Linked DNA regions of Homo sapiens. The protein of the gene in region 4 interacts with the protein of the main gene of each other region in a biochemical or structural test. Each region holds a gene or a part of one and is shown on either strand. Other genes may lie near its edges.

Region 1 (7,440 bases), on a different chromosome or scaffold from region 4:
CCTGTTCTCAAGGAGCTTACATTCTAGATGGGGACAGAAACAGTAAACACACAGAATTTCAGATGCTTTTTTTTTTTTTTTTTTTTTTTTTTTTTTTTTTTTTGAGACGGAGTCTCGCTCTGTCGCCCAGGCTGGAGTGCAGTGGCGGGATCTCGGCTCATTGCAAGCTCCGCCTCCCGGGTTCACGCCATTCTCCTGCCTCAGCCTCCCAAGTAGCTGGGACTACAGGCGCCCGCCACTACGCCCGGCTAATTTTTTGTATTTTTAGTAGAGACGGGGTTTCACCGTTTTTAGCCGGGATGGTCTCGATCTCCTGACCTCGTGATCCGCCCGCCTCGGCCTCCCAAAGTGCTGGGATTACAGGCGTGAGCCACCGCGCCCGGCCAGAATTTCAGATGCTTTTAAGTGGTATAAGGAAAATTAAATAATGAGCATAGCTGCTAGTGGTGGTTGTGCTGGTGGCAGCTACTAATGTTCAGGAAATACCTTGAGGAGATGACATTTTTTGTTTGTTTTTTTGAGATAGGGTCAGGCTCTGTCACCCAGGCTGGAGTGCAGTAGTGAGATCTTGGCTTACTACAGCCTCTGCCTCCCAGGTTCAAGTGATTCTCCCCTGTGAGCCTCCTAAGTAGATGGATTACAAGTGCACACTACTATGCCTGACTAATTTTTGTGTTTTTTGTAGAGATGGGGTCTCGCCATGTTGCCCAGGCTGGTCTCCAACTCCTGGGTTTCAGTGATCTGCCTGCCTTGGGCCTCCCAAAGTGCTAGGATTATAGGTGTGAGCCAACTCACCCAGCCAGGAGACCACATTTGAGATGACACCATGGAGAACATTCCCAGTAGAAGCAATAGCAAGTGCCAAGGTCCTGAGAATCTGGTGCATTTGGTCACAAGCTTGGTATGTTTGGACCGAAGGCCACTGTGTTCAGAGGTTAGTGATTAAGGAAAGTGAAGGCCAGGCGCCGTGGCTCACGCCTGTAATCCCAGCACTTTGGGAGGCCGAGGCAGGTGGATCACGAGGTCAGGAGATCAAGACCATCCTGGCTAACATGGTGAAACCCCGTCTCTACTAAAAATACAAAAAAATTAGCTGGGCGTGGTGGCAGTCACCTTTAGTCCCAGCTACTTGGGAGGTTCAGCCAGGAGAATGGTGTGAACCTGGGAGGCGAAGCTTGCAGTGAGCTGAGATTGCACCACCGCACTCCAGCCTGGGCGACAGAGCAAGACTCCGTCTCAAAAAAAAAAAAAAAAAAGTGAAAAGGGATTAGATGAGCGATGTAGGCAGGGACCAGATTATCTAGGGCTTAATAGACCATCAGGAGTTTGGATTTTATTTTATTCTGGTTCCAGTGGGAAGCTATTAAAAAAGTTTAATCACGGGAATTACATGACCCAATTTATTCTTTAGAAAGATCACTCTGACTCAGGGTTTCTTAACCTCAGCACTATTGACTTTTTGGGCTGAATAATTCTTTGTGTAGGGACTGTAGGCATTGTAGGATACGTACCTTGTTTAGAATCCTTGGCTTTCACCCACTAGATGCTAGTAACCCCACCACCTCCCCTCAGTTGTGACAAACAAAGATGTCTCCACACATTGTCAGGTGTCCCTGAGGGACAAAATTACTATTCTAATGGAACAAAAAGGATATGAACTTAAATACCAGACTCTGGGCCAGGCGTGGTGGCTCACACCTGTAATAATCCCAGCACTTTGGGAGGCCGAGGTGGGTGGATCACCTGAGGTCAGGAGTTCGCCTGGGCAACATGGCAAATCACCGTCTGTATTAAAAATATAAAAATTTAGGCCGGACGTGGTGGCTCATGCCTGTAATCCTAGCACTTTGGGAGGCTGAGGCGGGTGGGTCATGAGGTCAGGAGATCGAGACCATCCTGGCTAACACAGTGAAACCCTGTCTCTACTAAAAATACAAAAAATTAGCCAGGCGTGGTGGTAGACACCTGTAGTCCCAGCTACTCGGGAGGCTGAGGCAGGAGAATGGCGTGAACCCAGGAGGCAGAGCTTGCAGTGAGCCGAGATCGTGCCACTGCATTCCATCCAGCCTGGGCAACAGAGTGAGACTCTGTCTCAAAAAAAAAAAAAAAAAAAAAAAAAAAAAAAGCTGGGCGTGGTGGCGGATGCCTGTAATCCCAGCTACTTGGGAGGCTGAGGCAGGAGAATTCGTTGAACCTGGGAAGCAGAGGTTGCAATGAGCTGAGATTGTGCCATTGCACTCCAGCCTGGGCAACAGAATGAGACCCTGTCTCAAAACTACAAAAACAAACAAAAAAAAACCAGACTCTGATACAGTGGGATGTTCACATTAGAAGCATGATGGCTCTTATTTCACATGAACTCTGGAACATACCATGGCCTTCAGAGATGTTGACCAGGTATGGTGGCTCATGCCTGTAATACATCCAGCACTTTGGGAGGCTGAGGCAGGTGGATCGCTTGAGGCCAGGAGTTCGAGACCAGCCTGGCCAACATGGCGAAACCCCATCTGTACTAAAAATACAAAAAAATTAGCTGGGCGTGGTGACATGCCTCCCAGCTACACGGGAGGCTGAGGCATGAGAATCGCTTGAACCCCGGAGGCAGAGGTTGCAGTGAGCCTAGATCGCACCACAGCACTCCAGCCTGGGTGACAGAGCAAGACTCTGTCTCCAAAAAAATTAAAAAATTAAAATGGTCCAGTTGAGTACAAAAAAGAAGATCAGGAAGAGTTTATTGGAGCAAGACGGAGATGAGCAACCTTGAAAACAAGTCTAATTAAGATGAGTAATTGTTAAAAGATGAGCAGTGCTTTCTAAGCAGAGGTAGCAGGAGGAAAGGGTCTCCGATCCTGTAACGCCTTTTATGCCAGGAAGAAAGGATGAATTGAAAGGATGAAATGGCAAATGTCGTAGTAGACTATTGGACTATTCCTGCAGCTCAGGAAAGTGGGCTGGAAATAAGAGGTTTGGCAAATACCCTGTTATGGTGGTATTTAAGGCAGAGGGAGGGTTTGGAACGAGCTCACAAAGGGAACTCTAGAATGAACAGAGTAGGCTTCTCAGGGAAGGCTTAAATCCTGGAGGTCTCTGGGGTAGGTAGGACAGAAAGTCCTGTTATTTTCCAGGTAGACAGACTGTTGGGCGCCGGGGAATTAATGCTGGTCACCTAGAGAGTTGTGCATTTTGTCTACCATTGTTAAATGAGGCAATGACCTGCCTCAAATACTTTTCACTCCACACACCTATTTGGAAGCCACGTATATTTTGCTTGCTCTTCCCATTTAAAATCGTAATCCACTCTATTCCACCCCCATGAGGAAGCTTTTGGGTAGAAAAGTGTGTAGAGGAATAAGTAAGTTGATGTGCATCAGATGTGCAAACTTTAGTGTGCATCAGAACCACCTGGAAGGCTTGTTAAAACAGGTTGCTGGGCACCACCCGGGGAGTTTGATTCAGTAGGTCTAAGGTGGAGTTCAATAATCTGCGTTACTAACACGTTTCCAGGTGATGCTGCTGTTCGGGGGACCACACCCAGAAGCTACCTTTTACCACTCTAAAAGGTAGCTGATTGGTTTTCTCTGTAATATAAATTCCTTAACGAGTTTAAAATATTGATCTGAGCCCTCGTAATTGCCTCAAATGTTTAATGCTAATGTGTGTTCAATGCTGTAGCCACGAGGGGAGCCTAAAATCACCTAACAACTCCTTTCGGGAGTGATTTTGATTAGTTCATCTACAGTTCCAACTAAGATTTCCCACAAATATTACTTTCACAGGAGGCTAACAAAAAACGCCGTCTTTGTCCCCAGAAAATACCTGGAGGACGGTATTTCAGAGGCGGGGAGGCTGCACCAGCCTCCCAGTCTCAGCCCTTCTCTACCGCCCGCCACTGAAGGGGCCCCGGATACCCCCAGGACTGCTGCAACTTCCTAGGTGACTTGAGGCAGCCTTAAAAGGGATTGGTGCAGGGTCCTTGCGACAGATAAATGTGATTAAAAATCCGCTGGGCCACCCGAAGGGAGAGTCTTTTTCCCTCAGGTGGCGCCTAGGGGCGGGACTGAGGGACAGCCCGCTCCCCGCAGCGCCCTCTCCGGCTCCGGGGGTGTTCCCGGCTGCAGCCGCGATCCTAACGGGCTCGCGAGACGCCCCGCCCACCCTGGGCCCGCCCCCGGCTCCATCTTGCGGGAGACCGGGTTGGGCTGTGACGCTGCTGCTGGGGTCAGGTGAGGAGCGGCGCCCCCCTCCCTTTCCCACCTCGTCTGCCTCGGTGGTCTTGCCCTCGGCCAGCTCTGGGCGCTGCTGTCCCGGTGCTAGTGGGGCGCGGCTGGAGGGCAGTGTGGGCCTCCCGGATGGCGGCGACTCGGTTTGCGCGTCTCGTAGCCGGGCTGCCGGCCGGGGTGTGTTGGGGTGGCGTGGGTGAGGCGGCCGGCCTGGCTTACGGGAAGCCCTTCCGTCCGTTTGGAAATCCCAGGGACCAGTGGCGCCCCGCCCTCGGGCAGGTGGAGGGGCTGAGGCCGGAGCGTGGCCCAGCTGCCTCGCGGGAGGCTGAGTAGGGAAACGCACGGGCAGTGCTGAAAGCCGTCTGGCTGGTAGTGGCTGTACTTTCCGGTGACACAGCGAATTTAGGGAAACTTGGGGAAATTTTTACTGTGTTTAGTGAACCGTAGGACAGAATGCGCCAGGCCAAGGTCGTACACTGGTTCTCGTTTACAGTTCTTGGAAGCTATTCTAGAATAGCATTCCAGATTTGATTGCTGTTCCCCGACCAGCAGCAAATCTGTGTTGAAATTAGCTCATCCTGTGCAAACACTGCGCAAGGAAACCAAGGTGCAGAGGTAGATGGCTGATGTCCACCGTAAAGTGACAGACATGACGCTGTTGTCTTCCGACTGCCGTAAACGCCCTGATTTTTGCCAGCTGATGGCCAGCTAATCTGCTAAATGTGTCCGAATTAGATGATGAGTGTAATGAGTTACCTTCCAGGCAAGGAAAGAGTTTCAAGCACTGAATAGGTAAAAGAGATAATTTTGGCCACTGCAAACTTTCAGTCCTTTTCAGTGAGGACTGTCTTTCAGTCCTCACTGGTGGTTGGCTACCTACCTGTCCGTGCAGAGGACTAGCCATGCCTCCATGTTCTTTCTCCACATCACTGACGGATTTAAATGATCCTACCATACCTAGAAGCCGGTTTTGCAAAATTGTATTCGCTGTTGCGCGTATCTTCAGTCACCCTTCCTGTTTCGTGTATTTTTTCCCCCATAAATTTGCAACAGCTGCCTCTTGGGTTCCTGGGCTTCATGCCATCAATGAGAAACGGTGAGACCCAGCCCTTTTACTAACTGACTCACTGGGTGGAGGTGGTTTGGAAAACCAAAAATGATTTTCTAGTCTTTTAAAAGTGATTGCTAACAGAGAATGTTTAAAAAAAAAAAAAAAAAAGCCCGAGCGCGGTGGCTCACTCCTGTAATCCTAGCACTTTGGGAGGCCGAGGCGAGAGATTCACGAGGTCAGGAGGAGTTTGAGACCAGCTTGACCAACACGGTGAAACCCCGTCTCTACTTAAAAATACAAAAATTAGCTGGGCGTGGTGGCGCGCGCCTGTAATCCCAGCTACTCTGGAGGCTGAGGCAGGAGAGTCGCTTGAACCCGGGAGGCAGAGGTTGCAGTGAGCCAAGATCGCCACTGCACTCCAGCCTGGGCGGCAGAGAGAAACTCTGTCACAAAAAAAAAAAAAACCCAAAAAACTCTAGACTTACTATTCACTTGGGCAAAGTTGAGAAATTTTTTGAGTCACTCTGGGTGTTATTTAGCTTTTTACAAAAACGTTTAAAATCTGCCTCTTGAATAAATGATATATGTACAATTCTAAAAGGGCTAAAGTACATTGAAAAGTAAGTCTCGGCCGGGCGCAGTGGCTGTCGCCTGTAATCCCAGCACTTTGGGAGGCCTAGGCGGGAGGATCACGAGGTCAGGAGATCGAGACCATCCTGACTAACACGGTGAAACCCCGTCTCTACTAAAAATACAAAAATTAGCCGGGCGTGGTGGCAGGCGCCTGTAGTCCCAGCTACTCAGGAGGTTGAGGCACAAGAATCTCTTGAACCCCGGAGGCGGAGGTTGCAGTAAGCTGAGATCGTGCCACTGCACTCCAGCCTGGCAACAGAGCGAGACTCCATCTCAAAAAAAGAAAAAAGAAAGGTAAATAGTCTTCTCCATTGTGTCCCAGCTCTTCATCCAGGAAGCAGTCACTGTTTTCTACTTCCTTGAGTGTCCTTTCAGGGATATTCTATAAGTCAAAATCAGTGCATTTTTTACACATAATGGCAGCACACTATGCAGTTTTTCACTTTGCCTTTTTTTTTTTTCATTAATACGTGTTATAGATGGTTTCATATATGGGTAAAAGAAAAAGCTGCCTCATTTTTAATAACCACATAACACCTCCTTGTATGGCTATCCATAATCTGTTTCACCTGTCCCTCCTTTTTAAAAATTTAAGCAATGGCCCCGCACAGTGGCTCACGCCTGTAATCCCAGCACTTTGGGAGGCCGAGGTGGGTGGATCACCTGAGGTCAGGAGTTCGAGACTAGCCTGGCCAACATGATGAAACCCTGTCTGTACTAAAAATACAAAATTTAGCCGGGTGCGGTGGCACGTCCCAGCTACACGGGAGGCTGAGACAGGAGAATCGCTTGAACCTGGGAGGTGGAGGTTGCAATGAGTGGAGATCACACCACTGCACTCCAGCCTGGATGATAGAGCAAGACTCCATCTCCAAAAAAAAAGATAAAATTTCAACAGCTTTTGGAGTACAAGTGGTTTTTTGTTACATGGATGAATTATATGGTGGTGAATTCTGAGATTTTAGTCACCCAAGTAATGTACATTGTACCTAATGTGTAGTTTTTGATTCCTAGCCCCCTTTCACCCTCCCCTTTCTGAGTCTCTAAAGTCCATTATATCACTTCATACCTATGTCTTTGCATACTCATAGCTTAGCTTCCACTTACACAGTGAGAACATACGGCTTTTGGTTTTCCACCCCTGTATTACTTCACTTAGAAAAATGGCCTCCAGCTTCATCCAAGTTGCTGCAAAAGACATTATTTTGTTCCTTTTAATGGCTGAGTAGTATTCCATGGTTTATATATACCACATTTTCTTTATCCACTCAGTTGATGGGCACTTAGATTGGTTCCACATCTTTGCAGTTGTGAGTTGTGCTGCTATAAATATACATGTGCAAAAGTCTTTTTCATATAATGACTTTCTTTCCTTTGGGTAGATACCCAGCAGTGGAATTTCTGGATTGAATGGTAGATCTTTTTTAGCTCTTCAAGGAGTCTCCATACTGTTTTCTGTAGAGGCTGTATAGTAGTGTAATAAGCGGTCTCTTTTCCCCACATCCACACCAACATCTATTGTTTTTTGACTTTTTT
Region 2 (7,888 bases), on a different chromosome or scaffold from region 4:
GTTTAAGCTTCCAAAGCCCTTGTTTAGGTCTTGTTCCCTACTTAGGAGAGGGTGGGCTTCCAAATGTATCAGAGGACATAACCAAAATAAACACTACCACAAATAAGTGTCTAAAGCCACACCACACACACCTACAGTGGTTACTGCAGTAATTCTGGCTCATTTCACACTATCAATAGTTCTAGCTGCTTTCATTTTTGGCACTATTATAACAAACCTGACACTACAACCACTAACAATTTGATTAGGATCCTTGGCATAATGCTATTGTATGGTCTTTTTTTGTAAATAGGTTAAAAGCTTCTGCTCTCTGGGATGGCAATCCTTTAAAGTTCATGGTTACAAAGATATGATTCTATTCCATGGTCCAGTATGAGTCACCTTCTCATCCAGGACCATGTCGATGTGAGGAAGCATTATATATGACTAATACACTGCCAAAATGCTTTTAAAGGTGTTGTCTGGGGAGGAGAAAGAAAGCCTAAGGCAAAGGTAACTGAGTGAGTTCAAAGTGAAATAGCTTCCCTAACCCAGACATACCCAGAGGAGAGAAAAATCCCACTGCTAGCACAAGCCTGGTGTTCCCAACTACCCTAAAGTCAAAATTTTGTGCAGAGATCAAAAGCTTATGGCTATTGGATTCCAAAAAATCATTTTGTCGAATTCACAGATGAAGAAGGAGGATGCCAAGCTCAGAAAGCTGCAGTACTCCTCTTATGTTCTTAGGTATATTCTTAAGACTATATATAACATCTGGCGTAACGCTCAATGCCAGGCTCTAGCGGGAATGTAATTGAACATTGTATAATGAAAATTACCAATAACTTGTCAACAGCTATGTTCAAGTCACTCGATTTCCTGTGCTTCAGTTTCATCACCTATTTCCTTCCCAGTGAGCTAAAAACAAAGATGTTAAGGTGCCTCATAGGGTGAAGAAATGAGGAACACACCTTAAAAAATACATAAGGTGATAACTAGAAGGAAAAGAACCAATAACGCCACATTTGGAGTCACTGCCCCCATGGTTACCACCATCACTCGCTCTAAGCCATAACCGGTATGCAGTTCTCTGCAACAGGGGCTCTGAACCTGGGTCCTTGAACCCCACAGGCTGTCATGGGTGTACTTTAAAAGAGGTCTGCCAGCTCTGATCTCTAGGGCAGGAAGCCCAGGACACAAAACTTAAGAACCACTACTATAGTAAACCTTGGCTACAGGTGTACCAAAAACAAACAAAAACAAAAAACACTTACAATGCCAGATGGAGAGGAAAAGTCAGGGAAGATGGCTCAGAAGCCAAGAGAAAAGCATAAGGATCTCACAACAACTACCACCTTCCTAAGCCTCAACTCCCTGGGACATCTATTCAACACTGACCCTGTCTGAAGATAATTTTTTCAAGCAATAACGCCTAGAAGATCATTAATAATAAGGAGAAGAAATGACTGATCATGGAGGACACAAGGCAGAAAAAACCTGAGCTGCCACCCATCCACTACTAAAGACACCTGTCAGAGGGACAACCAAAGGATTTGATGGAGCTTTGAGGGGAGCAGGCAGCTTTATAACAATAGGGTTGTCATGAGTTGCAACTGTGGGGCCATCTTGTGTGCAGTGTGAGAGATGAGAATGGAGTCTGGGTCTGCAGGTCAGACGAAGGATGAAGAGATGAATACTCTAGCCTCTCAGTAGTACCAGCAGGGCGATAGGTACTTCCATACCCCCCCCAAATAAGACCCAAGTCCCAGCTTTGACAAAAGAACCATGTTTGGAAGAGAAACTGAAGTAAATTGGAAGGAAGCGCTTCAACAGGAGGAGAGTGGTTCAAAAGATGGACAAGAGGTAAGTTGTGATCTTCGAAGACCAGGTCATGGAGAAGGGGGCACCCTTAAAGGGAAGTGAGAGAGGGAAAGAAAGAATTTCATTCTAATTCCTGAGAGCAAGGCAGCGCATATAAAATTACCTAAGATTTACAGAGCGATTTGCCGTTTACAAAACATTATGACATTCACGATAACGTTTAATCCTTATCACCCTGAAACGCTGGTTACATTTTATTTTACACATGAGGAAACTGAGGCTGAGTAGGGCGGATTATGCGACTTGCTCAAGGTCACTTGGCTGAAGTCAGCGCTAGGATGCATCCCCAATGCCCCCACCCCTCCGGGTGGCCGTCCACCCTGAAAGTCTTTGTATTATCTCCTACAGGGCAAGGCTGGTGTGGCTGCAACAGACTTCGCCCCCTCACCCCCAAATCTGGGACGGAGCAGCGCCCTCAGGTGTCAAGGAGGGGACCTGAGTGACGCGGAGCCACTGACTGGGGTTTCCCTGTCCTGCGGGGCTCGCGGGAGCCAGGAGCAGAAGCCACAGCTCTCGAACACACGACAGGCAGTCAGTCAAGTCAGGCTCCAGCAGCAGTTGCCGGCGTGGGGCTTAACACGAGAGGGGCAGCGCTGGGTGAATTCCCCTCCGAGCGATCCCAGGGCTAGGACCAAGCGCCTGCGCCCGCTTCTCCGACCCGGCTCCCCACACTCCCCCCTGCCCCGCTGGCTCCTTCCCGGAGGTTCCCCTGTGCGTGGGGGCGCCCTGGAAGAGGAATGGGGCTGGGGTGGAGTATGGAGGTGTCAGAGGGCCGACCCCGGGGCGAGGGCTTCCAACGCCGATCTTATGGGTCAGGACAACCGCGAACAAACCCCGGCTGAAGTTTGGGCATCAAGGGTTTCAGACCAAGTAGCAAGTTGCCTGGAGAGCGAGCGGTCCTAGGTGGAGGGCCTGGGGCAGGGGTGGCGGTAGGGGAACAAGGGAGAGGCAGGAGATGGTGCCCCTTCCCACGCAGCCCCTCGCGGCCCCGCGGGTAGGTGGCCGGTCCGCCTCTGCAGCCCGCGGGTGCGGAGAAAGCGCCCGGCACCGGGCACCCGGCACCGCGGCGCAGCGCAGCCAGCCCCTCCTCGCCGCGCTCCGCGCTCCTCCCCACCTGCCCACGGCCTCGCCCCCGCCGCGGAGACTCACAGTCCTCAGAAACTGGATCTCGTCCTCGCCTCCTTCTCCCCCTTCGGCCATGGCTCCCGAGGCGTCGGCGGTGCCCCAGCCTCCGGCGCCTCTGCTTCCCCCGGCAGCCGCTCGGCGTGCGCTGACTGCTGCTGCGCTCTTTCTCCTCCTCCTTTTCGTCCTCGTCCTCCACCTCCTCCTCCAGCTCCTGGCTCAGCCTCAGCCTCAGCAGCGCCAAGCTAATCCCCGACCATATAGGGAGCTGGGCTAACACTCCACTGCACTGCAGAGCGCCAACGCCAACCAAGCAGTCCGCCCACCCCTCTCGCCTCTCGCCCCAGCCAAGTGCGCTGCGGCCGCCCGCTCCGTGGAGAGCGCAACGCTGGGCGCGTCGAGCTGGCGGGGGCGGTGCGGGGGCCCTGGGCTGGCGCGGTGGAGCCTCCCCCGCACCGCTGGGTACCGCACCGCACACTCAGCGGAGGCGCGCGCCCCGCGGCGACCGGAGGATGTCCCCTAAACTGCTCCAATTCACAAACAAAGGCCAGTTGCTTAGCTCCAGCGCGCCCAGACTGGGTACCAACCCTCTCGCTTTGCTCGCTTTGCCCGCTTTGCCCACTTTGCCTGTGTGTGTGTGTGTGTGTGTGTGTGTGTGTGTGTGTGTGTGACAGAGATAGAGAGAGAGAGAGAGGAAAGAGAGAGACAGAGACAGAGAGAGAGAGAGAGGAAAGAGAGAGACAGAGACAGAGAGACAGAGAGAGGAAAGAGAGAGAGACAGAGACAGAGAGAGAGAGAGAGAGAGAGAGAGAGATCTGGACTCGAATACCTTGCTAGGACCCGCGTGCATTGTTGGGCAAGGAGAAGACGGTGCAGTGAGGAGCGAGGGTGATTGTCCACTTACAACAAAGTTTGCAACTCCCTGGATAGTCCTTTCTACACCTTAAGAGAACCCCTTCCCCTCTTCAAAATTGGTAAGTACACTTTACCAAACCCCTGGATTGTCCAGGGTTGCTGTGACTTCTGTACCCCAGGGAGCTTCTGGGGGATCCTGTGCCACCCTCAATTTGGAAGTCAGGTGGCATCACAACCCTTCCTCTCTGCCCACCCCTAACCTTATTCTGCATTTAGAGTTCCAGCCCTGTGGACTCTAAAGGGAGTAGAGAGTAGTTACAGGAGGCTCCCTTCCAGGTCCTGGAAGGCTCCTACATCCCACCCAGCCTTAGGTCCTTTTCCATGGTTGGGGATTGCCAGATTGGTCCTTGCCTTGACTGACGGTGCAGGGTGCCCCCTTCTGTTTGATGGCCGAGAAGCTCCAAGGCAAGAGACTGTTCAAGGCAAAAGGCACCAGAGATGTAGATTTAGGAGGAAGTGCAACTGGGAAGGTGGTAATTCTGGGCTGATGATGGTGGAAGACACTGGAAACCCCAAGCCATTTCACAGCTTCATATACCGCCTCCTTGTGGACGACATCTATCTCTTGATGCTACCTTAAGATCTCTTTCCTGAGCTTCCGTCCCATATGTTCTGATGAACATCAGAAATGCAAAGAAAAATGTTTTTTTCTTGTATTGTACTCAAACTGCTACCTTCTAGGCTTCAGCTTGGGCCTTGTGCCTCTTCTGAAACCCGCCTAGAATAAGTCAAACCATCTGTACATTGTGGCCCTTCACCTCTTAGAAGGCATCTGCCATGCTTGCCTCTATGGCCCACCATCCACTCTTTTCTTCTCCTGGCTCAAGGTTCTTCTTAGCCCCAACTTTCCCTGTAGTATAGTTTCCAGAGCCTATGTCATCTTTGATGGCCATATGAGCATTCCAGGTGGTCTTCTTCCTGAATTGTTGTGCTCTCCGTCCTTGTTTTGGACAGTCTTTATGTGCAGCCTAATATTGGATTGGCTTCTGGAGAAACACTAATGACACTCACTGTGTTTGGAGTTAACTAGAATTTCTAGATTTACTTTTTTCCTCCCACGTGAACTGCAAAAGTCAGCTCTTCTCCATCTTGATCACATGCAAGTGCTTGAGTACCTGTGGGCACGGTGGCTCACGCCTATAATCTCAACACTTTGGGAGGCCAAGGCGGGTGGATCACCTGAGGTCGGCAGTTCGAGACCAGCCTGACCAACATGGAGAAACCCCATTTCTACTAAAAAAAAAAAAAAAATACAAAATTAGCCGGTCGTGGTGGTGCATGCCTGTAATCCCAGCTACTTGGGAGGCTGAGGCAGGAGAATCGCTTGAACCCGGGAGGTGAAGATTGCCGTGAGCCGAGATCATGCCATTGCACTCCAGCCTGGGCAACAAGAGCGAGACTCTGTCTCAAAAATATGTGTGTGTGTGTGTGTGTGTGTGGGTGGGTGTGTGTGTGTTCCTTCCAATTGTAATACCCAATCATGTATTGATGTCTCTATATGTGAACCTTTAAGGTATTTTTAAAGCTAGAGTATGCCAGGCAAGGTGCTAATTATTACTAACCTGTGATATGGCATACCTTCAGAATACTAATAGAGGCCCTCTTGGATTAACTTTCATACTTTTGATTATGCTTAATATGGCATACCTTCAGAATACTAATAGAGGCCCTGTTGGATTAACTTTCATACTTTTGATTATGCTTATTTAATGATCAAGAACTTACCTAAGTCAGAAAAATAATACCTATTGAGTACTATGCTTATTACCTGCGTGACAAAATAATCTGTACACCAAACCTCCATGACATGCAGTTTACTTATGTAACAAACCTACATATGTACCCTTGAACCTAAAATAAAAGTTATAATTAAAAAATAACCTACATAAATATATTATTTTGCAGCCCAAATTTCTTCTTGTTCATAGGGCTACTATAAATGCCTTTCTTACATACTTTACTGAAATACAGATATGTAATCTGGGACACCACCTCCCGCATCAGTCAAATAACCCTACCACAAAAGAAGTAAGAATGGAGTTCTGTAACACCATTGGTGCATCCACTTGGATTCCTGATGGTCTTTGTGTTCCTTTAGAGTTCCCAAAAGTAAGCTGTTTAATTATCAAAATCTAAGATTGTTCTGGAGCTCAGCGTATAAAAGAGTCTCAGGCTGTTGTTTCAGACTGTAAACTGGGGAAGGTGGACATTTACTTCTATTTGAAATCTATTGGTACTTCTTCCATTCTCTAAGATTTCCCAAAGATGCACCAATAATGATGCTGTAGTCATACAGGTACAGATAAATAGTAGTTCAGACACTGTGCTTTGATACTTGTTTTGCTATTAGTTCACCCATTAAGACCGGGAGAGAATAAACTAATAGTAAGTTACTTGTCTAAATTCATACATCTAGTAAAAGGAGTCACACAATCTCCTCTTACTTGGAGTAAAACAATCTCAATACTTTTCAGTACTTTCTCCACTATAGTGCCTTGCTTCTAGAACAGCAAAGTGGAAAACATCAGGTTCATACACCACCTCCATGCCCCCATACCCCATACACATTGGGTTTGCTTCCACACAGCCTATATTTTAAACTGAGTCTCTCTCAAGACCAGTTACTCTTAGTAGAGAGCCGGAGGACTTGGACCTTAGGTCTTAGAGGGTACTGTAGCTACTACATTTTGAAAGAAAAACCCAAAGCCTCCCAGGTTTCTAAACCTCTGGAGAAAGCTATCAGCCATTATTATGACTTCAATTAGGTGCACACAACAGGGAAATCAAATACCTTTGGGATACTGGCATGGTTCAAAGTCAGACCTCAAAGCCTGCTGTATTTGAATGTTGGGGCACTCTGCAGCCAATATCAACAGCAGGTGGAGAGCCTGTAGTGGGGGCCAAATCAGAAATTTTTCATTTTTATCATTATAGCACTTTTATACCTTTTACATATACAATTTTAAAGGCCTGACATTGAAATATTGTTATTCAATATTGACTATTGAAATAAAATTCATGTATTTATTTTCTCCTCTGGAGGTTCTCAAAGTATTGGTCCTAAGGATTTTCTCACATAAGAGGGCCTCTTATTTGTGTTTTAACAGTAATATTGCTATAGTTTTAAAATGCTAATGAAAATGTCCACACTCATATAAGTCAGTATCTCATTTGCTATGTTGTATTATTCATGGTAGCCAGTTGCCCAAGTGGTCTCAATGAGGCCAAGGATATGGATTCAGTTCTAGGAGGGCCAGTTAGCTTCACTCCATTTGCTGTCCAAAGACTCTGGCCCCTTCATTCTGGTTAAAAGTCTCATACATCTTTGTTCATTTAGCCATAGGGGAGGCAGGCTTAAGCTTTAACAAGCTAGGACTTCCCATGCTTGGAGACACAGAAGCTAAGAGGTCACACTTGATAAAGATAGCCTTCACCCATGTTACTAGCAATATATTAAATTCTACACAACACTAAATCTTTCTCCAATATCCATTTCAGCCTCACTTCCTAACTATAGCAGCCATCCATTTGCTGAAAATGCATTTCTTCCATTAATTGCGCTCATGGCTTTGGTCTGCATTGACTCAGGATTTGCCTAAGGAACATATAAAAGGGAATGATGCAAAGAACTGTAGAGTTGAGGGAACTGACTCTGCTAGCTACCATCTTTTAAAATATCTCACCATATACACAAGTACTATTATATACTGACTGAAGATTTATTTGTTTTTCATTAGCAAAAAGAAAAAAAAACACTTTTCTCTGCTTTTTGTTCAGGTGTTCCAAGGCAAGAAGTTATTTTCACCAGGGAAGCCTGTGAACAGAAAGAGCTCCTGAGACTACACCTGCTTTTAATTTGGTGTCAGTAGGAACGATGGTATACACATTTTACAAAAGTCATTTTTTAATGTTAAGAAAAAATTATCAATTGTTTCCAAGATCTTTATAATAAGCTACTAAATTGGTATACTAATATAGCTTTGTCCTAAAA
Region 3 (7,416 bases), on a different chromosome or scaffold from region 4:
CCTCGTATATACCCAAGAGAAATTAAAATATGTCCACACAAAAACTTGTACATGAATATTCATAGAAGCATTATGAACAATAGTAAAAGAAAGGGAACCCCAAATGTTCACCAGCTTATGAGTCAATAAACAAAATGTGATATATCCATATAATATTATTTGGCAATAAAAATGATTGAAGTACTGATATATGCTACAAAATGCAAGAACTTTGAAGACATTATATTAAGTGAAAGAAACCAGTCACGGAAGTATATTAAGTGAAAGAATCCTACTAGTGTGGGATTTTATTTAATTGAAAAGTCCATAATAGACAAATCTTTAGAAACGAAAAGTAGATTAGTAGTTACCTAGGGCTAGGAGCGGAACAGGACTGCTAATGGGTACTAAATTCCTTTTGGGATGATAAAAGTGTTCTAAACTCAACTTATAGTTATAGTTACACAACTCCATTAATATACATAAACTATTAAATTATGTATTTTAAGTAGGTAAATTGTATAGCATGTAAATTACAGTTCAACAAAGATATTTTAAAACAAAAGAAAATCAAAGAAAAATTAATCTGGCTAGTTAATTCTTTTTATGTATTACATATGTATTTACATTTTTTACATGAGGTAATTAGATATCTTTCATAATGTACTCTTGAGATGGTTCAGTTTGATTTTAATTTTGTATTCTTTTTTTTTGTGAGAAGAGTTTTATCATAATTTTTCATCTGATGATGTTTTTTAAGAAAATACCGAACAACCAAAACAAACACAACATTTGGGAAGGAATTCTTGTTTATGAAGGAAAACGTTGTGTCTCTACTGAGCATGGAATTTTAACATTATAATTTAACATTTTGGCATGCTATCATCGAAAACCAACATAACACCTTGTCTCAGTAGTTTATATTAATTGCCTGTGATAGATGTGTATGTATGTGAATGGATAATGTAAACTCTCACTAAAGATCATAAAGGATTTGAGGCAGTTTTCCAAATGATATGGAACATGAATGTATAAAAATGTGTCACTGGCATCAGGCCATAGAAAATATATGGATAGGAAAATAAAACTGAGGCTAAGAGTGACACACAGTCATTTATACCACACCGATTGGTAGAGTTGGGGCCCACATTAATTTCATTCTTCCTAGCAGCCAAAGAAAAATATGATGAGTTTCAAAATCCAAATTCCAAAAAAGGAAGTCTTAACTAGCATGGTTGAGAAGAATCTGATGCCCCAATAACATGACAAATCATTAATATTTTAAAGTGTGCAATGGTGGTAGATTTATGTCAGTGTGTACTTTGTTTCTCCTTAACACATGTCACAGTTTATAATTTAATTTACTCCATTTTGGTCAGCGGGGGTGGTTTACTCCCTCAATTGAATATAAGCTCCCTGGGGGCAGGAATCATGTCTATATTATTCACCATTGTATCATCAGTGCGCAGTGCTAATACATAATAGGCACTCAGTGATATTTGATGAACAATTGAATGACAATGACATATGAAAGAAATTTCTCCACTAGAGACTTTTTTGTTGTTGTTTCTTTATTTATCTATTGTTTTGAGGTGGAGTCTCACCATTGCCCAGTCTGGAGTACAGTGGCGCGATCTCGGCTCATTGCCACAGATCCTTGATACAATGGAGGAGGAAGGAGGTGCTAGATGAATGTCAAATTCTATGTAGAAGAAAATTTGTAGAACATCTAGAAATGATTAAAAGTACTATGCAGCCATTAAACATGTCATAGAAAATTAAAAGAAGACACAGGTTGGGTGTCCCAAATCCAAAAATCTGAAATTCGAAATGCTCCAAAATCGGAAACATTTTGAGCACCAACATAATGCTCAAAGGAAATGGGGTATTTCACATTTCAGACTTTCAGATTCAGGATGCTCAACCGGTAAGTATAATGCAAACATTTCAAAGTCTGAATAAAGTCCCAAATCCAAACAATTCTGGTCCCAAGCATTTCAGATTAGGGATGTTCAACCTGCAGTGTCTATTCCCATAACTTTTTTCCTTCAAATTTACAGTGCATACTGATTTCTCCTCTGATTCAGATTTTAAAAAATCATTCATTTCTAATCTTACTACCACTCTCCTCCCTTCTACAGATCTGTTGACATCTTAGAGTTGACAGAGCAGGAGGAATTGCTGAAATTTCACTATCACACTCTCCGGCTCTACTCAGCCGTCTGTGCTCTTGGGAACCACCGGGTGGCCCATGCCCTGTGCAGCCATGTGGATGAACCTCAGCTCCTCTATGCCATTGAGAACAAGTACATGCCTGGTTTGCTGCGTGCTGGCTACTATGACCTGCTGATTGACATCCACCTGAGCTCCTATGCCACTGCCAGGCTCATGATGAACAACGAGTACATTGTCCCCATGACGGAGGAGACGAAGAGCATCACCCTGTTCCCTGATGAGAACAAAAAACACGGCCTTCCAGGGATCGGCCTCAGCACCTCCCTCAGGCCACGGATGCAGTTTTCCTCCCCCAGTTTTGTAAGCATTAGTAATGAATGTTACCAGTACAGTCCAGAGTTCCCACTGGACATCCTCAAGTCCAAAACCATACAGATGCTGACAGAAGCTGTTAAAGAGGGCAGTCTTCATGCCCGGGACCCAGTTGGAGGGACTACTGAATTCCTCTTTGTACCTCTCATCAAGCTTTTCTATACCCTGCTGATCATGGGCATCTTTCACAACGAGGACTTGAAGCACATCTTGCAGTTGATTGAGCCCAGTGTGTTTAAAGAAGCTGCCACTCCGGAGGAGGAGAGTGACACGCTGGAGAAAGAGCTCAGTGTGGACGATGCAAAGCTGCAAGGAGCTGGTGAGGAAGAAGCCAAGGGGGGCAAGCGGCCCAAGGAAGGCCTGCTCCAAATGAAACTGCCAGAGCCAGTTAAATTGCAGGTAATCAGAACAAGAGACTTGAGTGAATTTCAGAATTGCTAAGCATTAAGGTATTAGAACATGCCTTTGTTTCTTTCTCTGTGTGTGTGTTTATTTCTTTGCATTCCTGTGTAATGGTAGTTCTTCATAAAATTAACTAACTTCCTATTCTTTTCCCTCTTATTCATTAGCCATCTCCTCTTGTTTCCCAGATGCTTTTTACCTTCATTACATTGGAATACCTGAAATACAAGCCATCAAATACCCCTTTCCACCCATATTTCCACTCTTACCAACCTTAGAATACTTGTTTACCAGTAGATGCACCCATTGTCACATAGCAAGGTTTTACTTTCCCCTAGTATGCTTTTGTTTTGTTCTTTTGAGACAGGGTCTCACTCAGTCACCCAGGCTGGAGTGCAGTGGTGGTGCAATCATAGCTCACTGCAGCCTAGAACTCCTGGGCTCAAGCCATCCTCCCACCTCAGCTTCTACAGCAGCTGGGACTGTAGGTATGCCACCATGCCCAGTTAATTTTTTTTTATTTTTAGTCGAAATGAGGTCTCGCTCTATTGCCCATGCTGGTGTCAAACTCCTGGACTCAAGTGTTCCTCACTCCTCATGCTCCCAAAATGCTAGGATTACAAGTGTAAGCCACTGCACCCAGCCACCTTAGTATGTTTTTAAGGAATCAGACACACTGGCTGTCTTTATGCTCCTCAAGATGTCTAAAGGGTCCTTTATTAATGTCTCCTCTGTTTATTAAAGTCAATTGGATGTTTGCATCGCTGACCTGCTTTTTTGCTCCTCGTTCCTTTAGTCAGCGTTGACTGAAGCCTTACTCTGGGTATGCACTTAGGGGAAACACAAGTGAACCCTGCCTTTCAGAATCTCACAGCCTCTAAGGAAATATACACTCATTTATGCATTAAAAAATCTTATTGCTAATTGCATTAAATACTCTGAAGGCAAAGAATGGATTACTAAAAGAAAGAACATTTAGACTGGATTACTGTTAGAAAGATGAGGGAGAAGACCCCTCAGAGATTTTGACTTTTAAGCTGAGTTCAGATTTAAGAGTTGTGCTCAGCAGTTACAAGAAAAAGGAACAAGGCAGGGTGTTCTAGGAGCTTTCCATGCAAAACAAATAGCCCAGCAAAGGTCCTGAGGCAGGAAAAGGCCAGTGTGGCTGCTGGTAGGAAAATCGATAAGGGAGGAAAGAGAGTGTGATCTAGTGTCTGGTTAGTCAGGAGGCTTTCTTGCTGGTCCAAACTCTAGGAGACCATGCTCAGAGGAGGGTGGGGCAAAGGAGATGGAGAAAAGGGGTTGGACACTGTGACTACTTCAGAGACAGCACTGATAGAAATGGTTATATTGTAGATGGTGACACAGAGGGTTTTAAGGTCCTCTTTGACACTGTCATGTATTTATATCACAATTGGTATTGAGTGTATAGATTTTTTTAAAAATTTGGCAGAGCATTCTCTCTTAGAAATGTTTCTACCAACATACTCACTCAGTTATAAATCCTTTTGGTTTTCAGTAGGAGAAAGACCCAGCTAATCACTGAATGAATGAGCATTCACCACTTAATTGTCTTAAGTTTAGATTTCTAGAATTGGTACAGCAGTTCAATGATCTCATCCATAACCCAGATCTTAATATTTTTCTGCTCTGTGATCCTCAGCCTGTGGTTTTCTTCCTAAAATGCTCACCTTATTCTTTCTGCAGTAATCATGTCATCACCCAGTTACACTCATTTTGAAAGAAGGGAACTCTAGTCTCTTATCACTGATGGAATAACTTTCCCAGAAGACCCTTAGCAAACTTTCCCTTATATATTTCATTGGCCATTGCACCTGTGGCTGAAAGGGAGGCTGGGAGGGTAAGTGTATTAGTTCGTTCTCACACTGCTAATAAAGACATACCTGAGACTGAGTAATTTATAAAGGGAAAAGGTTTAATGGACTCACAGTTCCACATGGCTGGGGAGGCCTCACAATCCTGGCGAAAGGCAAATGAGGAGCAAAGTCACATCTTACATGGTGGCAGGCAAGAGGGCATGTGCAGGGGAACTTCCATTTATAAAACCATCAGATCTTGTGAGACTTATTCACTACCACGAGAACAGCATGGGGGAAGACACCCTCATGATTCAGTTATCTCCACCCAGCCCCGCCCTTGACATGTGGGGGTTATTACAATTCAAGGTGAGATTTCATGGGGAAAGAACCAGACCATATCAGTTAACATCCACTAAAGGGACATTTGTTTGCCATTTTTGCTTATACAAATTATGTTTCATCTCCTGGGACCGAGCACATTGCTGCCTATACAAAATCAGGATTCTGTTTCTAAGAGAGAAGAGTAGGCAACTAAGGATGTTTACCACAGATTATGATTTCATACACATTATTAAAGGATTTAGAAATTAAATTTGGTGTCTTTTTAATGGTCTCTTAGATGTGCCTACTGCTTCAGTACCTCTGTGACTGCCAGGTCCGGCACCGGATAGAAGCCATTGTAGCCTTTTCAGATGATTTTGTGGCTAAGCTCCAAGACAATCAACGTTTCCGATACAACGAAGTCATGCAAGCCTTAAACATGTCAGCTGCACTCACAGCCAGGAAGACAAAGGAATTTAGATCACCACCTCAAGAACAGGTACAGAAATGAAATGAAAATTCTTCGTATTTATGTTGGCTTTTAGTCATTCAGGATCTCTGCCTTGCAAAATTATATAACTCACACGTCTTGTTTTCCTTGTTCTGTTTAAAGTCTTCAAGTTGATTTAGTTAGTATTCTTAGTTTCACCAAAAGAATTTCTTTGGTTAGTTTACACAAAAGAGGGACTTATTAGAAGATATCAGGTATATCACCGACTCTTTGAGAAGGCCAAGATATGCCAGAGTCTGAAGTTCTTCAAATAGGAGCAAATTTCAACCACAAATGGGTCTTCATCATCTTCCACTCATAGGAATTTTTGATTCCTAGGACTCGATGCTAGAGGCTTTCCATTTGTGCCTACCATAGAAGAAACACATGTCTCTTCCACCTTGCTTGCCGGAAGACTGATTACCTGCTTGTGGTTTCTTCCTTTCATTGCTTACCCCCAAAGTCAGGTCTCCTGAGGGTACAACAGAACAAAGGGAACCTGCCTATATCAGAGAATGGGCTAGTTGGGGGATGTAAATTTTCTGGAATCTACCTCAGAGTGGGCCTCAGAGTGTGGGAAGTTACTGGCGTAGGGATGGTGTTAAACAATGTAATTCACAGATGTCTTTTTTGATTTCTTACCCTTACCATTTTCTTCTCTATCCAGGGTAGCTCAGAATGAAAGTGTTTATAGGGACTAATTACAGAATTTTTTTTTTTCTCACCAGAATGTAATTTCTTTGAGGAAAGGGATGTGGAATTTTCTTAATTGTTATAAACAGCATTTATTGAGCAGAGAACAGGTCCAGCCTCTTCCAGATTAACTCTGTTAAACTACTGTTGGGAAACTTCTGCTTCTGGAAAGATGGAGTACATGTGCTTTTCCCGATTCTTCCTTTTAAGTACAACTAAAACCCTGGACATTACAAAGAAGACAACATAAGAAGGCTCTGAAAGATAGAGAGAAGAAGAGAGGTTGGCTACAGAACTCAGGACCCAAGGAACAACATGGTGGTGAGTTCCCTGGATTTTCTTTTTGCCTCATCTATCCCAGATTTGAAGCTAAAGAAGACGACAACCAGGAAACACCAATGGGCATAGACAAGAAAAGCTGCAACAAAAGCCTCCTCTTTCTAGATAAAGGATCAGGGAAGGGGCAGCTTAGCAAGACAGAAATGTGTTAGATAATAACTGCACTACTGAAGCCAAAAACCACAGAAAAAACTGTTCCCCACCCACACTGGGCACAGGCTGAGTGGGGAACCTTGACTTCCACTCTCACCAGGCTGTAACAAGGTGTCCCAGTAGAGGACAGAGCTGGGACTTTATCCCCGCTGAGTAGTAACAAGGCCCATTTCTTCCAAAGTATCAGTAGAGGTTATGGAAGGAGAAGTAGCAAGACACTCTTACCTTTCTAGCAAGGTTCACATCAGTACAGGTCTAATGAGGAACCAGAACTTTTTACCACTGCCCAACAGTAACAGGGTCCCTTCCCTCCTCCAGATGTCCAAGAAGGCTGAGTGGGAAAATGGACTTCGCCTCCCACCTGGCAGCAATAAGATACCCTAAGCCCTTCTCCTGCTGGATGGGGTCAGAGGAAACCAGGTGAAACAGAGTTAAAAATAAGACCCAGAGCTCCTAGCATAATCCTCAAAATGTTGAGATTTCAATTAAAAATCATGTGTGTGAAGAACCAAGGAAAACTTGAATGAAAAAACCAATCAATAAGCACCAACACTGAGATAACAAAGATGTTAAAATTATCTGATGAAGTTTTGAAAGCAATCGCCCTGTAATTCCTTCAAAATGGAAAAGAAATAGAAAGCCTCAACGGCAGAGAAACAAAATATATGGCAA
Region 4 (7,367 bases):
ACACTGCCGTTTGTCTTGAAAACATAATTAGGGAAGGTGTACCACAAAAGAATGGGATTCTCTCTGAGAGCATGTTTATCTACTGTCACAGCTTTAATTGGGAAGGGTGAAATATCTACATCTGGCTAGGTCTGCTCTTCAAGAGCTGGGGCCAGATATTTGCCATCTCTCAGCCTTGGTCTTTTCTTCTGTAAACAGCAGGATTGGAGTATATGATCAGAAAGGTTTCTGTAATTCCAATGACTTCCCAAAATAACCATGACCTGCATCCTATCTATAAACCTCACATAGTTCTCTCCCTAACCCATGCTGTTGTCACAACCCTCCTACAGTCTTTTTTTTAGGACTTAGTAAATCGTTCTGACAAATAACTGTATTCTACCCATAGGCTTTATCTTACAGTCAGCAAATCATTTGCTAAAGTGCTAAACTGCCAGAGTCATAAGCCCGCATTCTGGAGGGGCTTCCAGCAGTGGTTGGTAAACTACTGCCCAAAGGCCAAATCTGACCCACCTCCTATTTCTGTACATCCAAGAGCTCAGAATAATATTTACATTTTTAAATGGTTGGAAAAATAAAATTAAGCATAATATTTCATGTCATATGAAATTCAAATTTCAGTGTCTATAAATAAAGTTGCATTGGAACCCAGCGACATCCATTCATTTATCTATTGTCTATGGATACTTGTGGCCTACACAGCAGAGTTGAGTGGTATTTGGCCATACCACTATGACTACATAGTCTACATACCACTATGTATGTAGACTCTCTCATACAGAGACTGTATGGCCCACAGGCCTAAAATATTTACTACCTGGCCCTTTACCTGCCCCTGGGTGTAGAGCACAGACTCTAGAGTCAGATGGCTTGGCAGCATAGCTCAGCTCTGTTCTGTTCCTTCCCCTTCCTCAAAACTGTATAATAGGAATGACAATAGTACCTATCCCATGGGTTTTTATTAAGATTAAGCAAATAAGTAAAATGCGATGAGGATCTGGCATATTTTTATTATTATATATATGTCTGATGGTATTATAAGTTGCCACAATTTTTTCCAGCAAACTAAAGTATTAGCAGCTGACCAATTTGTTAGCAATAATTGTAAGAATTGAATTTGCAACACTCCATTAAAATTCAATTCTTTGTCAGATGAGTAGGTAGCGAAAATTTTCTCCCATTTTGTAGGTTGCCTGTTCACTCTGATGGTAGTTTCTTTTGCTGTGCAGAAGCTCTTTAGTTTAATTAGATCCCATTTGTCAATTTTGTCTTTTGTTGCCATTGCTTTTGGTGTTTTGGACATGAAGTCCTTGCCCATGCCTATGTCCTGAATGGTAATGCCTAGGTTTTCTTCTAGGGTTTTTATGGTTTTAGGTCTAACGTTTAAATCTTTAATCCATCTTGAATTGATTTTTGTATAAGGTGTAAGGAAGGGATCCAGTTTTAGCTTCCTACATATGGCTAGCCTGTTTTCCCAGCACCATTTATTAAATAGGGAATCCTTTCCCCATTTCTTCTTTTTGTCAGGTTTGTCAAAGATCAGATAGTTGTAGGTATGCGGCGTTATTTCTGAGGGCTTTGTTCTGTTCCATTGATCTATATCTCTGTTTTGGTACCAGTACCATGCTGTTTTGGTTACTGTAGCCTTGTAGTATAGTTTGAGGGCTAATATCCAGAATCTACAGTGAACTCAAACAAATTTACAAGAAAAAAACAAACAACCCCATCAAAAAGTGGGCGAAGGACATGAACAGACACTTCTCAAAAGAAGACATTTATGCAGCCAAAAAACACATGAAAAAATGCTCATCATCACTGGCCATCAGAGAAATGCAAATCAAAACCACTATGAGATACCATCTCACACCAGTTAGAATGGCAATCATTAAAAAGTCAGGAAACAACAGGTGCTGGAGAGGATGTGGAGAAATAGGAACACTTTTACACTGTTGGTGGGACTGTAAACTAGTTCAACCATTGTGGAAGTCAGTGTGGCGATTCCTCAGGGATCTAGAACTAGAATTACCATTTGACCCGCCATCCCATTACTGGGTATATACCCAAAGGACTATAAATCATGCTGCTATAAAGACACATGCACACGTATGTTTATTGCGGCATTATTCACAATAGCAAAGACTTGGAACCAACCCAAATGTCCAACAATGATAGACTGGATTAAGAAAATGTGGCACATATACACCATGGAATACTATGCAGCCATAAAAAATGATGAGTTCATGTCCTTTGTAGGGACATGGATGAAATTGGAAATCATCATTCTCAGTAAACTATCGCAAGACCAAAAAACCAAACACCGCATATTCTCACTCATAGGTGGGAACTGAACGATGAGATCACATGGACACAGGAAGGGGAATATCACACTCTAGGGACTGTGGTGGGGTGGGGGGAGGGGAGAGGGATAGCATTGGGAGATATACCTAATGCTAGATGACGAGTTAGTGGGTGCAGCGCACCAGCATGGCACATGTATACATATGTAACCAACCTGCACAATGTTCACATGTACCCTAAAACTTAAAGTGTAATTAAAAAAAAAATTCAATTCTTTAGCAGTAAAGCAGTGGGAAGATGTCTAAGGACAACTGATATGCCAATTCGTATAGCCGTTTATCCACGAAGCTAATTCTGCAGTACTTAAAAATATTTTATATGCTTTATACTTCTTTCAAACTTGAGTCTTGAGCTTGTACTCAACATCGAGTTCGGCCCTGACATCTACTCTTTATAGTCGGTTACCTCTTTCTGAAGAAACAGGCTTCCAAAGAGAGACCAGGGGACTCATTAGATGTCTCATCTACCTTGATGATTGCTACCTTGATGATTGAAAACAGTAACCTGCTTCCTGAATCAAACACAAAACAGGCAACATGCAGTGTCTTTGCTATGCCACAACAGGGACTATTAGAATTTTTCTCACAATTCGGACTTTGGTTTTCAAAAGGGCTTGCGAGGGAAGTTACACACAAGAGAAAAACAATGAACCGAATGAGGACAATAGCCCACGAATTTAGAATGGAGGAAGCCCGTCCACCACAGCGAAAAAGCACAGTACCACATTGGCGGGTGCTCCAATATTTGTGAAATGTTGATGACCCTTTAAATGTTTCTGTGCAACCTCCACAACAAATACTGTGAATCTTGCTTATTAATGCGTTTCTCAATACGTTAAAATTCAGGAAATCATTAAGTCTAGTCCTTAACAGTGAAGGGCAAGCAATTTTCTGTCATTGAAATTACACAAAACAAAACAAAAAGCTCACGCCTGAATTGCTTCGGACTATTCAACTGGAAGATAGAAAAATATATGAAGTAAAGAAGAATAACCTACATAGAAGTTCCTATCTCTTATCTTCCTGAATACTTACCAGTACACTATTAGTTTGTTCTAAACTTTTCTTATATAAAAAGTAGCTGAATACTTTTAGGGAAATGGATTGTTTTGTCTGAATCATCCAGATAATTCAAACAATTCATTTTCCTAAGAACGATATGTGTGAGTCTGTCCTGCCCGGAAAATGCCCTCTGTCCTACTCAGGACACAAGTCACGCTCAGCTTAAACAGGCAAGGAATTGTCCCCTAGGAAGGAAATACGCCGTTGTCGTTCAGTGAACTCTGCAACCAACAGCAAGCCAAACTCTCCCTTGCACACAGTTCGTCAAGTTAATTCTTATTTTCCAAGGGCGCTTTCGTATTTCCATCTTTCAAAGACTCCTTCACCCACTGGCACCTAAGGCTTGCCCTAACGCATCCAGCCCCTGCCTCGCGATGGTGCGCTCCGCTTATAATAGCTCCGTCCTGTCCAATAAAGTTGTTTAAAATAAGAAATGTGCCAGATAATAGCCAAGTCCGAAGGAAAAAAAAAAAAAAAGAATTCCTGGGGTGGTGTATTGGTGTTGGAATGTGCCATTAGTTTTGGAGGGAGGAAAGTCCCTGGTGTGAATTGCCTCGCAGGTCGTAGGCCGCCACTGGACCTTCAGTCGTGCACTGCATTAGCGCCGTAATGGCAAAGATACGAAGAAGCGCGCAGGCAGGGGAGCCACGGCCGCGCGCACAGGCAAGAGCTGGAGACGACTGCGGAGCGCGTCCCCCACGCCCGCGTGGTGCGCTCTGGGGCGGCCCCCTAGCGGCAGGGCGGGGCGGGGCAGGGGGCGGAGAGGCCTGGCGCACAGGGCGAGGGCGGCTGCGGCGCAGTCTGCAGCATGGCGTACCCGGGGCATCCTGGCGCCGGCGGCGGGTACTACCCAGGCGGGGTAAGTGCTGACTGCGCGGGATCGCGGCCCAGGCGGCTCCGGGGCGCTAAGAGGCCACCTTGGAGATGCTGCGGCCAGCGGGGTGAGGCGCTGCTGGGCGGCTACCCGGGCTCCTTCCGCCCTCGGCTTCTCCCTGCGCTCGCGGCCTCGCCCTAGGCCCCTGGGGTTCGGCCTCTCCCCACGTTTCCCCGTCCCTTCTCCTGGATGGCCCTGCGGGGCCAAGGTGAGGGTGGATTGGGACCCTAGAAGCCCACCCTGCGGCTTCTCGGATACGCGGCGTGAAATCGTGTTAATTGGGTGTTGGCTGACCCCCACCCCACCCCACCCCCGCCTTCTTGGTTGCCTCCCAGAGCAACAACAGTCATTTTATTCTAGAATGATATACCTTCCTCCCTTTAAAAAACAAACAAACAAACAAACAAACAAACAAACAAAAAACGAGTGAGAAGGGGGACGGAAAAAAAGGGAAAACCTGCTGAAGTAAAAGACCTGTAGGAAGGCAGCCTCGCCGGGCGTCTGGGATGCGCGTTGTCTTGGGAACTGTTTCCGAGACAGGCAATGTTCCCTCGCCACCCACGAGATACAGCCCGGCCGGACACCTTACTCTTCCCTAGGCTACACCCGTCTCAGAATGTTACCAACTCCAGCCTTCCATCGTTCATAAAACGCTCTTAAAATACCATAAATGCTGTAACAACAAAAGGAGAATTTGAAGCCCTGCCATTCGTTGGCTTACCTAGTTTGCACTCACCTCAGTAACCTTCAGGTTAATAGGGATTTTAAAAGTTGCTTTACATATGTAGACATCACTTTCACAGCAACTCTTTATGGTCTAAGTCGCCAGTTTTTAAATTACGGGGTGTGAATGGAAGAGAGGGGTGGAGTGTTGGCAGAGTGTGCCCGGTGGTGGGGAGGTGAGCCTTGTGAAGGGCGGGCAGGCGGGCAGTTGTCTGGCCTTGCACAAAAGCCCTCAGTGGTGAAAGAAGAAAACTTGATTCGGCAGAATGACGTGTATGTGTTTCCTGTTTCACAGTATGGAGGGGCTCCCGGAGGGCCTGCGTTTCCCGGACAAACTCAGGATCCGCTGTATGGTTACTTTGCTGCTGTAGCTGGACAGGTTAGCTTTTCCCTTTAATATTAAAGAGCCGTTATTGTCTGCATTTGTGGTAGCTTTTGATATAGTGACACAGAAAAGCGAACTTCCTGTGGTACTGAGTCCCTTTGCTTCTGCAAAAGAAAAAAAAAGTTGTTTCTTATTTTAGTTTTTTATTTCTGAATGTTCAGAATAAATGAGGACAAAGTGTTACTCGTATTTATGTGAGTTCAGTTCGAAAGCAAACTTGTGGTTGAATTAAAGGGTCCAGGATGGTTTCAAGCGAAAAAATTCAAGATCTGGTAAATATAAACGCTTGTTTGTACAACTTAAAGACATATATTAGTAATTACATAGCTCGATTCTAATGGGCACTTTCTTTGGGTTGAACTTGATTGCTAATCATTCACCCCCTTAGGAAATATGGTAAAAACCCACCAGCTTCTAAATAAGGAAGTTACTGTTCCCTTCTTAGTATCAGAAAGTTAATCTTGTGAACAGTGTAGTTTCTCTTTGATGCAGATGCTGTTACTAGGTCAGCCCCTCCATGTCCTTATTAGGTGTTCTGGCCTGTTGACCCAGAGAAGCAATTAAGGTCAGCTCCCCAAGACCTTTCACTTGTCTGCATTCTGAGTTGTATGACAGGTGCTATCTTACATTGACAGGTGCTATCTTACATTGAGAGAGGACACTTCCCTAGTTCATGAGGTCACTGTGTGCAGTAAATATACTGTTGGTATAACCCAGACACGTCCAGAGGAGATGTTTGTTCTTATGAATTCAACCTAGTTTTGTTTTGACCAAAAGCTAGAAATAGCAAAATCTTAATGTGAAAACTGTAGAATATTATGGGATAAAAAACCTAAGACCACTTTTAAGGTAGTACTCTAAGAAATACAGCTTAAGAAATTGAATGGAAAATATAGTCTAAAACTGGAAGACCTTCCCCTTAAGTATCTACTTAAACTGTTAATGATCTGTATCTTTGAAACCACAAGGCATGGCAAACCTCAAGACTAGCATTCTTAGATTGCCAGTGCCTCCAGCATGTAAGTGACTCCACCTGCTTAGCTTTCAGCAGCCCTGGCCTGTATTCAGCATACCCATTGTCTTTCAAATTGCTGATCTTGCTCCTCATTTATAACTTATAATACCCAGTGACTTGAAGATTTAGGTATTTTATTTTAAAGTCCCTAAAAATCACATATATCTAGTTCTTTCCCAGTTCAGCCAGTGAATGGGCACTGGGAACCTAATGTGAATCTTCCAGATGTATTTGTGCTCTGAAAAAAATGATTCACTATATCATAAGAAAAAGTGACCAAGGAGGCCTTTTTCTGTTTGAACCAAGCCTTCTATTTATTGATGTCTGCTTTGTACCTTGCTCTCTCCACCCCCATCAAAAAAAAATATTTTAAAATGTTTAGCTGTAGCAGTTTGCTAGCTCAGATTGAGAGAAGAGTAGTTGCCAAGACAGACTCTTTCTTTCATCATTAAATTACTTTTGGAAGTGGGTTAAGGAAAAGAATGCCCACTTTTGGAAGGCATTCCTTTTAATAAAAAAAAGGCATTCCTTTTAAATAAAAAAAAGATACTGATTTTCTTTGTTGTTATTGCTTCATTGAATGCTGAAGGTAAACAACTTGAAAGTACAAATCACTATTATGATTCCTCTAATTTTTTTTCAAAAGGATGGGCAGATAGATGCTGATGAATTGCAGAGATGTCTGACACAGTCTGGCATTGCTGGAGGATACAAACGTAAGTTGACAGTCCCAAAGTTTGTCTAAATATACTCTTGTGTTTCCTATCTTAGCTGTTACTTGTGATTACAGCCTTCAAGAAAACTGAGCTTGTCGGATCTAGCAAAGTTTAGAATTCCGAAAGCTAAAATACAGTACTATTTCAAAATGTTGATTTGAAAACAGTTTTTAAATCACTCCAGGCTGGGCACAGTGGCTCACACCTGTAATCCCAGTACTTCAGAGGCCCAGGC

Evidence for each region.
Region 1: the proteins of SRI (region 4) and ANXA7 interact in a biophysical measurement, tested with the Homo sapiens proteins (2 studies listed by BioGRID and IntAct, with this or other methods).
Region 2: the proteins of SRI (region 4) and RYR3 form a complex in vitro, tested with the Homo sapiens proteins (one study listed by BioGRID).
Region 3: the proteins of SRI (region 4) and RYR2 form a complex in vitro, tested with the Homo sapiens proteins (one study listed by BioGRID).

The regions. Positions count from the first base shown.
Region 1 is NC_000010.11:73,410,795-73,418,234, reverse strand, and holds the start of ANXA7 (annexin A7), read left to right. Parts: upstream 1-4,176; 5' UTR 4,177-4,223; intron 4,224-7,440. UniProt on the Homo sapiens protein: Calcium/phospholipid-binding protein which promotes membrane fusion and is involved in exocytosis.
Region 2 is NC_000015.10:33,306,218-33,314,105, reverse strand, and holds the start of RYR3 (ryanodine receptor 3), read right to left. Parts: upstream 3,140-7,888; 5' UTR 3,061-3,139; coding exon 3,010-3,060; intron 1-3,009. UniProt on the Homo sapiens protein: Cytosolic calcium-activated calcium channel that mediates the release of Ca(2+) from the sarcoplasmic reticulum into the cytoplasm in muscle and thereby plays a role in triggering muscle contraction. May regulate Ca(2+) release by other calcium channels.
Region 3 is NC_000001.11:237,611,919-237,619,334, forward strand, and holds part of RYR2 (ryanodine receptor 2), read left to right. Parts: intron 1-2,120; coding exon 2,121-2,925; intron 2,926-5,367; coding exon 5,368-5,568; intron 5,569-7,416. UniProt on the Homo sapiens protein: Cytosolic calcium-activated calcium channel that mediates the release of Ca(2+) from the sarcoplasmic reticulum into the cytosol and thereby plays a key role in triggering cardiac muscle contraction. Aberrant channel activation can lead to cardiac arrhythmia.
Region 4 is NC_000007.14:88,216,887-88,224,253, reverse strand, and holds the start of SRI (sorcin), read left to right. Parts: upstream 1-4,215; 5' UTR 4,216-4,227; coding exon 4,228-4,278; intron 4,279-5,029; exon of another isoform or gene 5,030-5,311; coding exon 5,312-5,395; exon of another isoform or gene 5,396-5,505; intron 5,506-7,062; coding exon 7,063-7,132; intron 7,133-7,367. UniProt on the Homo sapiens protein: Calcium-binding protein that modulates excitation-contraction coupling in the heart. Contributes to calcium homeostasis in the heart sarcoplasmic reticulum. Modulates the activity of RYR2 calcium channels.